Linked DNA regions of Homo sapiens. The protein of the gene in region 1 interacts with the protein of each later gene in a pairwise test. Each region holds a gene or a part of one and is shown in the gene's direction. Other genes may lie near its edges.

What was found. The genes of interacting proteins can lie anywhere in the genome.
Region 2: the proteins of ZNF521 (region 1) and LYST interact in a two-hybrid assay, tested with the Homo sapiens proteins (one study listed by BioGRID).

What each region holds. Positions count from the first base shown.
Region 1 is NC_000018.10:25,349,152-25,356,968, reverse strand, and holds the start of ZNF521 (zinc finger protein 521), read left to right. Parts: upstream 1-4,802; 5' UTR 4,803-4,964; intron 4,965-6,021; 5' UTR 6,022-6,022; coding exon 6,023-6,062; intron 6,063-7,817. UniProt on the Homo sapiens protein: Transcription factor that can both act as an activator or a repressor depending on the context. Involved in BMP signaling and in the regulation of the immature compartment of the hematopoietic system.
Region 2 is NC_000001.11:235,863,887-235,870,809, reverse strand, and holds the start of LYST (lysosomal-trafficking regulator), read left to right. Parts: upstream 1-3,903; 5' UTR 3,904-3,967; exon of another isoform or gene 3,968-5,754; intron 5,755-6,923. UniProt on the Homo sapiens protein: Adapter protein that regulates and/or fission of intracellular vesicles such as lysosomes. Might regulate trafficking of effectors involved in exocytosis.

The sequences.
Region 1 (7,817 bases):
AACATAATTTGCCTTTTTAGGAAATATAACTATTTCCTCTTTATTTCATTATTTATAAATTTTGTATTTCTGATGACAGTAATTATTTTTAGCATATGCCAGTTAAGTTCTACAAATATATACTATTAGCAATACTTAAAAAGGTAGATTCAATTTCTATCAACTGTTTTATTCCTTTATTGTCTCTTTTAAGGGTACATGTTCATTTTTTTTGTTAGTAGATCACTTATCTATATCCTTAATTCTTTAGAATTCACAAATCAGTACTATCTGGTTTTTCTAATATGCTACAATCTCTTTTCTTAAGATGATGCCTCACCTTTCAGTTACCTTTAAAAGTAGCTTGCAAATATTATTCTACTGAAAGATCCCTCTTTTCTTTTCGCAATTTCTGTGTGAAGAAAGGATATTTTCTCTCTTTTATTGTTTTAGTGGCTCAATAAGGACCTTTGCAGTGGTTATGAAAGCCTCAGTAAGAAAAGATGACAATGTGAAACCTCTAGTTTTAAACGTTTCTATACATGTTGAAATTAAATCTTTAAATTTCAATGAATTCGTGTATTATAAAATAAATGAATAATGTATAGTGTGCATTTAAAAAACTTTACCTTTTTGGATATAGTCCACCACCAAGTAGAAAAGTCCTCAACGCATCTGTATCAGAATTTTTTTTAAAGGGGTTTAATGACTCAGATTTTATGAAAGAAAAGAAGTCAAGTAAATAAGACTAAAAAAAGATTGAAAATAGAATTTGTTATTCATAATGACAAAATACATTTGCCATATTTATATATTTAATGTGGATTTTTCCATGTGACGTTCTTAAATGCTTTTGCATTCAAACATTGCTACCCATTTCATAGATTAAGAGGTAGAGTGTGGTTATGAGTATGCAGGATGGATATTAAGTAACTTACTGAGAATTAGATGGTGGACAATTAAAGGAACTGGGAACTGAGTATAGTTTTTGTGGACTAAAAATATTGCCTTTCCAAATGCATCACTAATACTTTGCACAAATGTTAATTTAAAAGTCCCTTATATGTTGTTCTAACAATAATGTGTTAATATGTATATACGTGGATGTATATACATATATAACACACACATATATTTTATATTTTAAACACACAGACACAGACACACACATTAGATTCAGATGGACTTTGATTAAACTGCCCTTTCATAGGACTTTTAATTTAACTCTTGTTAAAAATGCTCCTCCTTTAAAAGAAAGCTTCTGTGGAGTAATATGACTGATACAGTCATATTACTCAGGCAGGTAATACACTAGATTTGAACTAACTTTCAATATTAAAAAAAATCCGAAATCGGTCTTGAAAATCTTAAAATATTACATGAAATTGTTGTACAGATAAGTAGACATGTGCTAAGGATATTTATATAAAATTATGAGCAGAGTATTCTCTTTGTAATTGGTTTAGATGCCAGATTGCAACTTTGACACTATTACTTATAACTTATCAAAGACAATTTATGCTTTGCAACTGACATTTTAAAATTGGAGATTTACTTGAACTGGTACCTAATGTGTTTTCTGTAATTAATTCCTTTGAGGTCAAGTTTCATGGACACAGGTTTCCTTTAACATTAATCCCTCCTTTAGCAATATCTTTATTGTTGGAATTAACAGTTGAAAAAACGTTAATCTTTTTTTCAAGTAAGAGTCTCAGTTCCAGATATTGTTTGTTTCACCAATGCAAGACATTCTGAAAAGTGCAAAATATCTTAAAAGTAGGTGCTGTGGAGTCAATGCATGAAAAGAGCCAGAAGTTAAATCAATCATATGTTAATACGAAATGGAAAGTTTAATTATGTAGCTACTTAAGTTCTTAATAGAACTCGGTAATGAAGGGTCTGTCTCATTTTAAACTTTATACTACTATTCAGGTTATTTGTAAATAATACCTAAAATTTATAAGCTTTATATGTTTTTGCTGGTTATTCAGGAGATGTTAAATAGGTTATTTGGAGGACAGCACAATTTGTTGGATGATGATGTTCAAAAAACTGTTGAATGAAAATGAATGACGTTCTCATTGTAGCTGGTTTCCAGTTTTAAGAATGAGAATAATACATTTAAAAGTTGGGGGATAAATAACTGAATATATAGTAGTTTACTATTCCCAAAATGAATTTTGTTAAGCATGAAAAAATGTTTATCAGTTAGGCATGTTTACCTTTCTGCAGTGGCTAATTATGCTTTTTCGCATCGTCCAAAGAAAGACAAATCTTAGTTTTCCTTCTTTAGCATCTGTGTAGCCTCTATCAGGTGAATTGGACAGTTTACATTTTTGGTGTCTGTTTATATACGAAGCATGGAAAGTAATTGCGAGGCTACTCAGCAGTGTTTAATGAAATCCAAGTGCTCACCAATTCCACATAATTGATTAATTCACATGGAATACGGTGGTAAGGGATGCTGAAATCAGTGGGAGTTTTGCCTACCAGATCTGTCCCTCCAAAAGGTAGAATGGGTGATGTTTTATCTTGGACTTCAAGACCCCTTAATGAGACCTAAGAAAATATTTGTCTTGTCTTTAGTAAAATTCCTTGCACATGGTTCTTTATGCATTATTACCCCATCATCAACAACAGCATCCAAATATTCACAAAGTTGCTGCATTCTGCTCAGAGATGATGGCTTTGGCTTCATGGGTGGATGTTGGGGTTTATGTTTAGAAACATAATCAATGATCTTCCCCCCCTTGGTAACTTGGGGGGAGGAAATTAAAGTATTTAAAGATACGTTTCAAAAGCATTTTACCTATCTGTATAGGTCAATATTTGACAGATTTAGGTTAAAATAGTTTTTATGTTTGTCTTTTGGGTGGTTGGTGCTTTAACCTCCCTTAAAATGCTATGCAGTACTATCCCAAACTGAAATATCAGGCTCTTGAGCCAGATCTAAATCTCTGAGCTAAGGGTTTTATTTATCTCTTAATAGAGGAAGGCAACAGAAATACTAACATTGGGAAATGAAAGAACAATTTTAGAGTAAAGCAAAGTAGACTACTTTGAGAAAGAAACAAAAAAAATCAACCCATATAGAAAACTTTAACAAATTAGGGTACGCGTTAGTATTACGTTAGCAATTTTTCACTTTCCAATAAAACCAGGATTAGATGCCATCAATATTTTAGATAATATCACACATAACTTGGGACCACACATACATGGCACCATAGTATTCTGCACACATATGGCTACCACACGAAAGGAAAGTCTTGTAAAAACTTGGTGTTTACACATTTTTCCCTTTCTGAATGATTTCTGTGAAAATGAATGTATAAGGTTATGTATAAAATCTAGAATCCTTAATGTACCAACACAGATTCTGCAACAAAAGTTGCTTTATTTCACAGTCATGCAAAGTTAAATTTGACTACAACTATGATTTCACTTTAGGAATTACTGCAGATGGATTGAAAACTCATTTAATTATAATGAAGATATTGAAAAAAAACATACTGTATTTGCAGCTATCCACATGAGGGTCCAGGCAGTTTACAGGTTAGACTGGAAAAAATACAACTTCCTTAAAGCTTTGATGTCTTTGCATGGTGGCTTAATAGATAGCTGTACCTTAATTTTACAGAACGGAGAATTTTTAAAATCTGATTAAGAACAATAGTATTTGTACAAAATTCTGCCTGTTTTGTGTAATTAACCGTATTCTGAATCTCTTAATTTCCACCAAGACTTGTGAATCTAAGCTCTACTTGGTAGCCCTCTCAGGCATTTATAACTTGACAAGCGTGTCCAATCAATAAATAGCAACAACAATAATAATACTAAAACATCCTTTCCCTTAAGATAAGGTAAAAGAAGGAAACAGGTGATGGTTTCTTGTTTTGCGATGGGAGCAGGTGAAAAGTTAGAAAACAAAACTGCGAAAAGAAACAAAAATTCCCACCGACCTGCAGACATTTCAATTTATTTTAGAAACTATTTTCTTGTACACATATTCTTAAGTGCATATTTCCTTACCTCTTGCTTAAAGAAAAAATCAACAGAAAGCTTTATTTTCTGGACAAAGATCTATGTCAATTTGAGAATGTTAAAAAAGTGAACTCAAAGCTGTCTCTTTTGAATCACATTATGACATTCGTCAGCATCAATGACTTTCTCTAAACGAGAAAATAAAAAAAAAGTCCAAATAACTTGCCTTTATAAAGATTCCAAGTAAGAGAGACTTGGCAGGTCTGCGGTTGCCATAAAAAAGATTTCCCGAGTCCGGGCAACAACAGCAGACACACTTTTTTAAAGTCCGACAATGCAAAAGCCAAGCAATGAATTTCCCCCCTCCTTTCTTTTTCTTTTTCTTTTTCTTTTTTTTTTTTTTTTTTTTTGCCCCCTCAAGAACAAATTGTTGCCTCCTTTTACATCCATCCTACCAGAAGGGGGACCTTTCCACTTTCAGATGCTCCTCTGCTTTAATTTCTGAAGAGGAAAAAAAGCGAGCAGAAGAGCCCCGAGATCCGCCGTGGAGCTCTAATAACGCAGCTGCGGCGGCGGCGACGGCGGCGGCGCGGGGTGTGCGAGCGGCCGGGCGGGCGGCGCGAGGGGCGGCGGCGCAGGAGCGGGCGGGGCGCGCGGCGCGTGGGAGGCGGCGGCGGCGGCGGCGGCGGCGGGCGGGGCTCGGGGCGCTCGGCCGCCGCCTGGCTCCGGATCCGCGCGCCGCGGCCGGCGCCTCCAGTCCGGGTCTTGGCGGGCCCCCTCCTCCCTCCCGCTCCCCGCGCTCTCGCCTTTTAATCATGCCCCTCTGTCTGTGTGTGAGTGCAGGCAGGCTGACAATGATTTCCTCAGTGATTACGTACAGAGCGAGTCCCTGCGGGTTAGGGGCCCCCTCTGGAGCCATCCTGATGGCTTTGGGGGCCTTGCTTCCATTTTCCATTATTATGTGGACTACCGGAGCGACAGCGCAGTCCAAGACCTTGCAGGTTTGTGATGAGGAGGGAGCACACAGCACACTCCTTCTCCTCCTCCTGCTCCCGGCTCTCCTCCTCCTCCTCCTCCTGCTCTCGCCGCCGCTGCCGCCGCCGCTGCCGCCGCTGCTGCCGCCGCCGCTGCCGAGGCAGCCGTAGACTTTAGAGCCCCGGTCCAGCGCCAGCCGCCGGCGCCGCGCCCCCGCCCAGAGAGGGGCGCCCCGAGCCCGGGCCCCGCACACCCCCTGCACACAAGCAGCCCCGCACACCACCTGGGGGCCGTCGGCTCGGGTGCTTTGGCTTTTTCTTTTTGAAAGAAATTACTTTAGTGTGGGTTAAGAAAAAAAGGGTGGGGGGAAGGGAGAAAAAAAGTATTTTTTTCCCTTTGCTTATTTTCGTGGCCCGTTCGCATCTGCCTCGGATGGTGGGAGATTTTTCTTTCCAAGACCTTTTCATCGCCTTGCAGGGTCGATTTCCCCCCCTCGTCCCCCCAACTACAAAAGAGCACGACTCGCTTTGTAAACAAATCAGTGTTATTTGTTTTTTTCCGGTGGGGGGGGGGGCGGATTTGTTGAAAAGGAAAAGCGGTAAAGAAAAAAAAAATCACCCAGACGCTTTTCTTTTTATTAGTTTTTTTCTATTCGCATGAACTATGTGAATTTTGATTGAGGTGGAAATAGTAACGGATTTTCTCTTTTTAGTGTAGCTGACGGCTCTTCAAACATTGTCTTTGGGGTTTTTTTTTTAGCTTTTTTTCCCTCCTTTCCTTTTTTCTTTTTCCTTTTTTTTTTTTTTTCTTGGAGATTGGGGGTGGGGGTCGAAGGCTGGGAAAGTTTGGTGCAGCAGCCGCCGCCGCCGCCGCCGCCGTCGTGCAGAGCGCGGAGCTCGGGCAGCCGCGAGCCCCGCGCGCGAGCGCGAGCCGGAGCCGGAGCGAGGAGCGGAGCGCGGAGCGAGGGCGCGAGGGAGGCCGAGCGGAGGGCGCGAGGCGCCGCGGCCCGAGGGGCGCGCGGCCACGAGGAAGTATAGTTTCTTTCAGGGCTGAATTGAAACAACTTCAGCTGTTTGCTTTTAGGATGTCTCGCCGCAAGCAAGCGAAACCGAGATCCCTCAAAGGTAAGGAGGAACCCCCTGCTCCCCGCTTTCCCCCATCCGCGAGTGTCACTGTGGGTAGCGGAGCGAGGGCTGCGTGGCTGCGAGGCGTGTGCGCGCGTGAGTGTGAGTGTGAGTGCGGGGGCGCGCGCGCTCCCCTCCCCGCTGAGCCCCTAGGTGGAGTGAGGGTGAGGTGTCGGGGTGGGGGGAGACGAAGACGGGAGGAGGATCCCCGAATGGGGCGGCGGTAGAAAGTGGGCGAGAAAAGACAACAACAACCGAAAAAAAAAAAGAGAGAGAGAGAGAAAGAAACGAAATTATCCGGAGAGGGAGGAAAAAAAAATATCCCGTCTGAGATCTACATCTGGGCTGGAGGAAAAAGTTTCTGTTGTGTGTTTTCGCAAAGAATAAATATGCAAAACCGTGCGGTGCTTCTTTTTTCCTTTTCTTTGGAAGAAGAAAAAAGTCATCTCGGAGGTGGGGAGCAGCCCCCGCTCGTGACAAACGTGGCCCGGGGTCCCGGCCGCCGCCTCCCGCCCGCCCGCGTCCTGCTTGGGTCCTCTCCGCACGTCGCCGGAGTAAACAGACCCCGGCCGCCGGCCGCGGGCACCGGACCCCGGCTCGGGCCTCAGAGCACCCCTCTTGGCCATTCCCAGAAGTTGACCGCCCCTCGCCCCTACTTCTCCCCGCCGCCCCTGGAGTCCTTTGCGTTTCGCGGTGGGGTCCAGCTCTCCGTCGTCCCTGTTGGAGAGGGAAGTTGCGGGGCGTGCGTGCGGGATTTTGGGGGCGCACTAGCTGGCTGCGGCGGGGGCGGGGGTCCCTGAAGTTATCGATCTGATGGCTGTGTTGGAATGTGGCGAGGAGAGTCACGTGGCGGCCTCCTCCTCCTCCTCGGCCGCCTCCTCCACCTTCGCGAGCCTCCTTCCGAGGAAATCGGGGGCGGGCGGCCGAGGGGAGCCGCGAGGTCCGGCGCTCCGAGGCGGAGAGCGGGGAGGGCGGGCGGCGGAGCGCGAGGGCCGGAGGAGGGGCGCGCGGGCAGGACGGGGAACCGGGGCGAGGGCCAGGGGGCCAGCGCTGGAGGCGGCCGCGGCCCCCGCGACCCGGAGGCGGAGGACAAAGGGCGGCTGGTGCGCCCGCCCGGGCCCGCTGGGTCCCGCCGAGGTCCGCGCGGCCCGGCCCCGCCCTCTGGTCCCCGGCGGCGCAGCATCCTCTTCCTCCTGGCTGCCGGGCCGCGGCGCCCCGTGGCCCCGGTTCCCGCACCAGCTTCCCGACTCGCCGCCGGCCCGGGGAAAAGGGGTGGGCAGGGCCCGGCGCCCCACGCCTCCCGGCCCCCGGCCGCTGTGCATTTTTGAACTCGATGAACGGAGCCCTCACCGCACACACAAAGCCCTTTCTTTCTTCTCCTGGGAAGGGACGGGGTGGGGGAGGGCCTCGCAGATTGGAACGCTTGCTTTTTTCCTAAAGCGCAGAAGTTTTAGTTCGGGAACGAGGTGAATCATTGGCATGTGTCTCCACACAGTGTGTCTGGTGGTTTCCGTCACATGGGCCCCTCATTTTTCTGGGGGAAACCTAGACCCAGGGCCTGAAAGATCCAAGTGTCGACAGTGAAAAAAGAAACGCCACGGGCGTGCGCGGGTGTCAGGGTAACGGTGGACCAGGCTCGCGCCGGCGAGACTTGCCCGAGACCCCGGCTTTCTTGAAAGTAACGCTGAGCGAAGTACCAGGACAAACCTCTTCCTAGTCACTTGGAAAGAAGAACTTTCCGAGTTGAAGTAGGAT
Region 2 (6,923 bases), on another chromosome or scaffold:
TTATCCAAATATTTACTGAGTGCCTACTAAGTGCCAGGCACTGTTCTGGTCCTTGGGATACATCAGAAATAGAACAAAGATTGTGGCCCTTGTGGAGCCCATAGTCTAAACAGGGGTGACAATGAAAATAAACATAAGAAATAGACAAATTATGTAGTATGTTAGAAGCTGATGGGTGCTATGAAAGAGATGATGTTTAGAGTTACAGGTTACACTGTGATAAAAGAAACACTTCAGCCAAATTAAATTTAAAGTTTAATTGAGCACAAAACAATTCGTGAATCAGGCAGCCTTCTGAGCCAAGGTAGGCTCAGAGACTCCCGCGCAGCCACACGGTGGGAGATTTATGGACAGCAAAAGGAAAGTGACATACAGAAAATGGAAGTGAGGTACAGAAACAACTGGGTTGGTTGCAGCTCAGCGTTTGCTTTATTAGAACACAGTTCAAACAGTTGGCTACATTTGATTGGCCAAAACTCAGGGATTGACACAGGTGTGGGCTATGGCCTGTTTACACCTTCATTTGTTATAGCTCATGATGTACAGAAAAACCTTTAGGCTGAACTTAAAATATGCAAGGAGGCAGCTTTAGGCTAAACTTGATTTAACAACTGTGTCAACTCTCACCAATGCCACCCACCTCCCCACACCCCCCAAGAAGGGACAGAGAACATACATGTTTTTTAATACTATTGTTTTAGGGAACATTTGTGAGATGAGGTCCATTCATGTGTGGGGTCCAGGGCAGAGGCCCCTCTTGCCTAGTTTAAGGGCAGTATTAAGGGTAGACCTCATTGAGAGGTGAAATTTGAGCAAAGACGTGGAGGAGATAAAGGAGTTAACAACTGCAGCCATGTGGAGAAAACAAATTTCAAGCAGAGGGGCCGGCCAGTCAGTGCAAAGCCCTTAAAGCAGGACTGTATCTGGCATGTTTGGTAAACAGTAAAGAAGCAGGTATGTAGGTAGTGATGGGAGAGTAGAAAGAGACGAAGTTTTGAGGAGCCAGATGGTGTTAGAGCTCTGTAGGCCAATTGTAAGGACTTTGGCTTTTATCTGAGAGAAGCGGAGAGCCAATGCAGATTTTTGAGCAGAGATGTGACATGATTTGATTTATATATCCATTTAGTCACAAATAATTTTTAAAGGTGTTTTGGAGAATAATTAAATGTGAAATTATGCACATTTACGTTGACTGTGTTGTTTTAAGCTGGGATGTTACAATCTCATTGAAGATTATAATTCTGGAGTCAAATTAGCTGAAGACTTTCCTGCTTAAAAAGTTTTCCAGCATGTGATACATGCGTAAGTAGAGCTTTTTTAATTATTATTTTTTTTTTTGAGACGGAGTCTCGCTCTTTCACCCGGGCCAGACTGTAGTGGCGCTATCTCAGCTCACTGCAAGCTCCGCCTCCCGGGTTCACGCTATTCTCCTGCCTCAGCCTCTCGATTAGCTGAGACTACAGGCGTCCGCCACCGCGCCCGGCTAATTTTTTGTATTTTTAGTAGAGACGGGGTTTCACCGTGTTAGCCAGGATGGTCTCCATCTCCTGACCTCGTGATCTGCCCGCCTCGGCCTCCCAAAGTGCTGGGATTACAGGCGTGAGCCACTGCGCCCGGCCAAGTAGAGCTTTCTTCTATATACCTATTACTTTACTTTTTTCTTCTTTTTCATGTTCTTCACTACACATTTTGTGTGTGTTCCTAGGAAATCTTTTAAACTAAGTTTTATTTGATATGTATATTTAGTATCGATGTTCTAAGATACTATTGAATAAAATACATACTGCAGTAGCTTAGTTAAAATACTGGAACCGAGGCCAGGAGCGGTGTCTCATGCCTGTAATCCCAGCACTTTGGGAGGTAGAGGTGGGTGGATCACCTGAGGTCAGGAGTTCGAGACCAGCCTGACCAACATGATGAAACTCTGTCTCTACTAAAAATACAAAATTAGCCGGGCATGGTAGCACATTCCTGTAATCCCAGCTACTTGGGAGGCTGAGGCAGGAGAATCACTTGAACCCGGGAGGCGGAGGTTGCAGTGAGCCGAGACTGTGCCACTGCACTCCAGTCAGGGAAAAAGAGTGAAGCTGCATCTTGAAAATAAAATAAAATAAAAAACACTGGTACCGAAAAAAATAATAGTCACAAATGGCATTACTTTGTGCCTTTTACAAACAAATAATACTTTGAGGGCCAATTGTATACCATTATCATCTAAAGTCTGTCTCATTTTCTTTGCTTTAATGAAATCATGATAATCTATTATTTTCTACTCAAGGTTAACAGAAACTGGCTTGTTACTTAATATTTCTTTGACTTCTTTTGTCCATTAAAAAAGGGGGGTGTTTTTAAGATTAGTGGGTGAAAGTTGATGTATAAATAAGAGTAGACACAGCTTTAGGTAAAATGACGAAACAGGTTAAGTTTGGCTTCCTCTTTTTGTTTCAGTTCAGGCCCATGCACCTAGCACAATACTTAGCGCATTGTAGGTGCTCATTATATACTGCTTAAATGAGTGATAAGTTCCCTGAGACATTTATTTCCTGCACTTGTTAGGGTTCAGTGAGCCGATATCCGGCCACTGCCCTCCAGCCTGGGCGACAGAGCGAGAATCTGTCTCAAAAAAAAAAAGATAAAAAATAAAAATAAAAGACTACCTGCCAGAGGAAGTGGGCAATCTTCGCCTAAAGATATGAACTGCTAATGGTTAAACATCAGACGTCAGAGAAGACATATTTTAAAGTGGGGAATTTTCCCCAAGAGCACCCTCTAAACCACATCAGTGGGCAACTTAACGCACTTTGCTTGTCATTGGGTTAGATGGGAGTTTGAGGAATTGGGAGTAACATTTGGTATATAGGCTTGGGACATAATATCCTGAATTATTTCTATTTCATAATTCCTGTGCAAAAAATTATGGGAGTTGTTGATTCTACAGCAATTCCTGTCAATTTGTAGATTATCTGCTTATTAATAGTTTGTATTGTTTGGCAGAACTTGAAAACTACCGAACGATTACAGTTCAGGCTTTTTCCCAGTACCTCTGGCGTTGCTGTCTCAGTGACTAGGAGGTGAGGAGGGTGGCCCTTGAAATGCCAAACTGCCTACCGCAGCAGTCTGCCAGCAGCGTGCTGGGCCCAGAGCCGGGGATGCAGCCAAAACATCCTGGATTTTACCTACAGCTCCCACCCTCTGGAGGGACTGGTCTATTAGGGCATATGACACTGACAGTGCGCACTGTATACAAACCGTGTTTGAACAGGAGTCGGTTGGAAAATACACCACTGCACTGAATTACTTCTGCAGTGGCTTTGCAAAGCTCTTTTTGTTTCTTGAAAGAAGCCGACGGTAACCATTACAATATGGCTTTTTCCAGGTCCCAGAGGAAGGCTAGGGGTGCCTTGTGGGTAACCCTTTCTCCCTCTCCTGACTCCTTCCCGTTATTTCTTCTATCTTCATCCTCTAGACCTACACAATGGGACAGGTTGACAGTCTGTGTTGAATGGAAGAGGCGGACGATGCGCTTGTGTTTGGTGCTTCTCAAACGGTGCTCGCACTCCCCAGGGTCTGACGCAGCCCACTACGCAGAGCCCTGGGAGGAGGTGCGGACCCAGGGTACGACCCCCGACCGCTGAGAAACCCAGACCGGGCCCCGGCTGCAGCCCCGCGGGTCGGCCCGCCCCCCTGCCTTCCCTATTGGCTCGGCAGTTCCACGCGTCACGCCTGCGACGCCGGCGCTGCCCTCCCAGAGGAGGCGGGGCTTACACGCGCGAGGCGGAGCCAAGGGCGCACGCGCAGACGAGCGGGTCTGGGTCCGGACGAGGGGAGGGAGGGGGTGGTGTTCTCGGTTTCCTGGGTTACCTGGGCGGGCGGGGGTGGGGAGTGCGCGGCGGCGGCGGCAGCGGCGTCGGCTCGGGGTTCTCCGGGAGAGGGGGAGTGCGCGGCGGCCGCAGCTGCCACAAACCAGGTAAAGGCGGCCGCCGGGCGCCGACGCTGCCGGCAGAAGGTTCCGGGTCCCGGCCCCTCTGCGTGGCCTGGAGGGGAGGCGGTTTGGGGCTGGTGGCTGTCAGCCTGGGTTGAGGGCCGGGACCGCCGGGCTGAGGGCGCGAGGGCGCGAGGGCACTCGGCCTGACGCGCCAGCTCGGGGCGTCCTCTCTGGCTTCTGGGCTCTGGGACTTCTCGCGGCGCCGGGCCGCCTTTGACAGCCGCCGGGCCGCGGGCGGGAGCTCGGCTGGGCCCCTCTGGGCCATTGCAGCGGCCACTGGGCACTAACTTTATTTCGCAGCGCGCGGGGGGCGAGGTCGAGCAGGCTGACGGCGGTGTGTTGCTACCTTTATTTTATTTTTTGATCCTGTGCCGCTGCACTACTCAGCCCAGCTGGGCCCAAGCTGTCAGGTTGACGATGGGAGTTGACGGTTTCCGCGCCACCACCCAGCCGGTCACTCCCCGCGCTGTTGCCCTGCGGCGCTCGCCCACCTGTCACCTACACCGTGCGCCTCGGTCCGCTCTTTCCTCCTGTCCGTGACACCCTTTGACTGGGCGAGAGCCTCTCTTTCCAGGGGATCCCCTGAGACATCTGCCGTCTGTCTCCGGTATCACTGGAGCCTGACTGAGATGCCCCTTCGCTTCTGATGAGTTAAATAAGCTGGGAAATTACCCGAGAAGACCCCGGTACCACAGTGTAAAGCCCAACGAAGGGGTTGTTTAATGGTCCAGGGGATACAGAGGCTTTAAGAAACGTTTCCTTAACGCTAATTCTTATCTGGTTAAACAAAACATAGCAAAACATCCCCGATCCGCTCGGCAGACCATACACACCCAGCGACGGCACTTGATAGTTAATGGGGTTTGTTTTAAGCAGATAGAAAATTTTAAGGGAGTCGAATCTTGTGTTGAATGCGTTCGTGTTGAATTTGGGCCAGTGTTTCCTTGAAGATCAAATGCAGGTTGCATTTTCCTATTGTTTGTTTAACAGATTGATAGGACAAACTGAATTAGACTTTTCTTCCTGATGATTCTTGGCTCTTCTGCGCTATTATTTTAAAATTCCACGCCTAGATTCATCTATGCTAATAAAGATGTTGACTTTAAGCTTTCAATTTATAGATGTAGTTGATTAATATGGGGTATCTGTTTTAAAGAGCTTTGTTAAGTGGCCAACAACTCTTTTTCTGATAGCTCTTTGCTGTCATCCATATTGTTACTACAAAGATTGGAGAATTTGAAGAAGAGAGGGCATAAGGAAAAATGAATTGCTGTAATTTGCATAAAAATACTTCACAAACTATATAATTATATATATGTATTTAGTAAATATTTATTGAGCACCTACTGCGTGTCAGATACTTTTCTAAGAAAACATAAATATCTGCTCCTTCATGGAGCTTATATTCTAGTGGGGACCTCAGATAATAAACAAATAAAATATGTGCTGTGTCAGATGGTGTTAAGTACTACAGAGAAAAAGCACGGAAGAGGGAGGGCAGGGAAGAGGGAGGGCAGGGAACCGGGAGAGGTTTGCAATTTTAACTAGAGGCAGCCAGGGAAAGCTTCCTAGAAAAGATATCATTTGAGCCAAGACCAGAAGTAAGTGAGGGGTAATCCATGTACCTCTCTGAGGGAAGGATGTGCTAGCAGAGAGGAAGGCAGAAGGGCTTGCAGAAGCCCTGTGTGCTGGGCTTGTTTGAGGACAGCAGAGAGGCTGATTTGGCTGTGGTGGAAAAAGCAAAGAGGAGTAGAAATAAAGTCAAAGAGGTGAGTGTGGTGGGAGATTAGACTGTATAAGGCCTTGTAGGCCCTTTTAAGGACTTGAGTTTCTACTCTCAGTGGAAAGGGGAGTCCACTCTTTGAGTAAAGAACCTTACCTTTTATTTTTAGTTTTGAGTCAGGATCTCACTTTGTCTCCCAGGCTGGAGTGCAGTGGCATGATCACAACCTACTGCAGCCTCGACTTCCCAGGCTCAGGTGATCCTCTCACCTCAGCCTCTGAAGTAATTGGGACTTCAGGCACACATCACCCACCATGCTTGGCTAATTTTTTGTAAAGATGGGGTTTCGCCATTGTTGCCCAGGCTGGTCTCAAACTCCTGGGCTCAAGCGATCCATCCACCTTGGCGTGTCAACATTCTGCGATTGTAGGCGTGAGCCACTGCGCTCGGCCCCAGGCTTGCCTTTTAAAAATGATCATTCTGGGCGCTGGATGGAGAATAGACTTTGTTGTAGGGGAAGGGTTGAGCAGGAGCAGAAGCTGGGATACCAATCCGGAACTGTTGCCCTAATCCAGGCCAGAGATAATGTAGCTTGGACCAGAGTGGAATTGGTGGAGGTGGTGAGAGGTCATTGATTTCAGGATAAATTGAGGGTAGAGATGTAAAAGACACCAAAATTTAGTTCCGAACAAGTAGAAAGATGGGGTACTTGTTTACTGAGATTAGGTTTACGAGAGGAGTAGGTTTGGTGGGGAGAAGGGTGGGAGTTGGTTAGAAGACAATAAAATTAGACATTCACGTTTTTAAAGAAAAAAATATTCAATGATACTTGTTTAAGAATGGTAAGTAAGGCTTTATTCAGAACCATCTCAATAGGTATAGAGACCTCTGCAGTGGGGCCCTGCAGTAGGGGAGGGAGACTGGGCTCAACTCCGAATACAGCATGAGAAAATGGGAATTTATAGCCAAGCAGCAGTGTGGGGATCGTGGATGGAAAATTGCTAAAAGGAAACATCAGGGATAAGGGGGATTCTGGCTAAGCCGACCTAACGGGATTCTTGCTGAAGACAGGCCAGGGCGATCAGACATTACCTGGGGAATGGTGGAGGATGAGGAACCTGATCAGATATTTAGGATGATTAGATATCCAGGATGTTATGCTAAACAGACTTAGCAGGGTTCTTTGCTAATACTGGATTTTACAAGGAAGTGCAC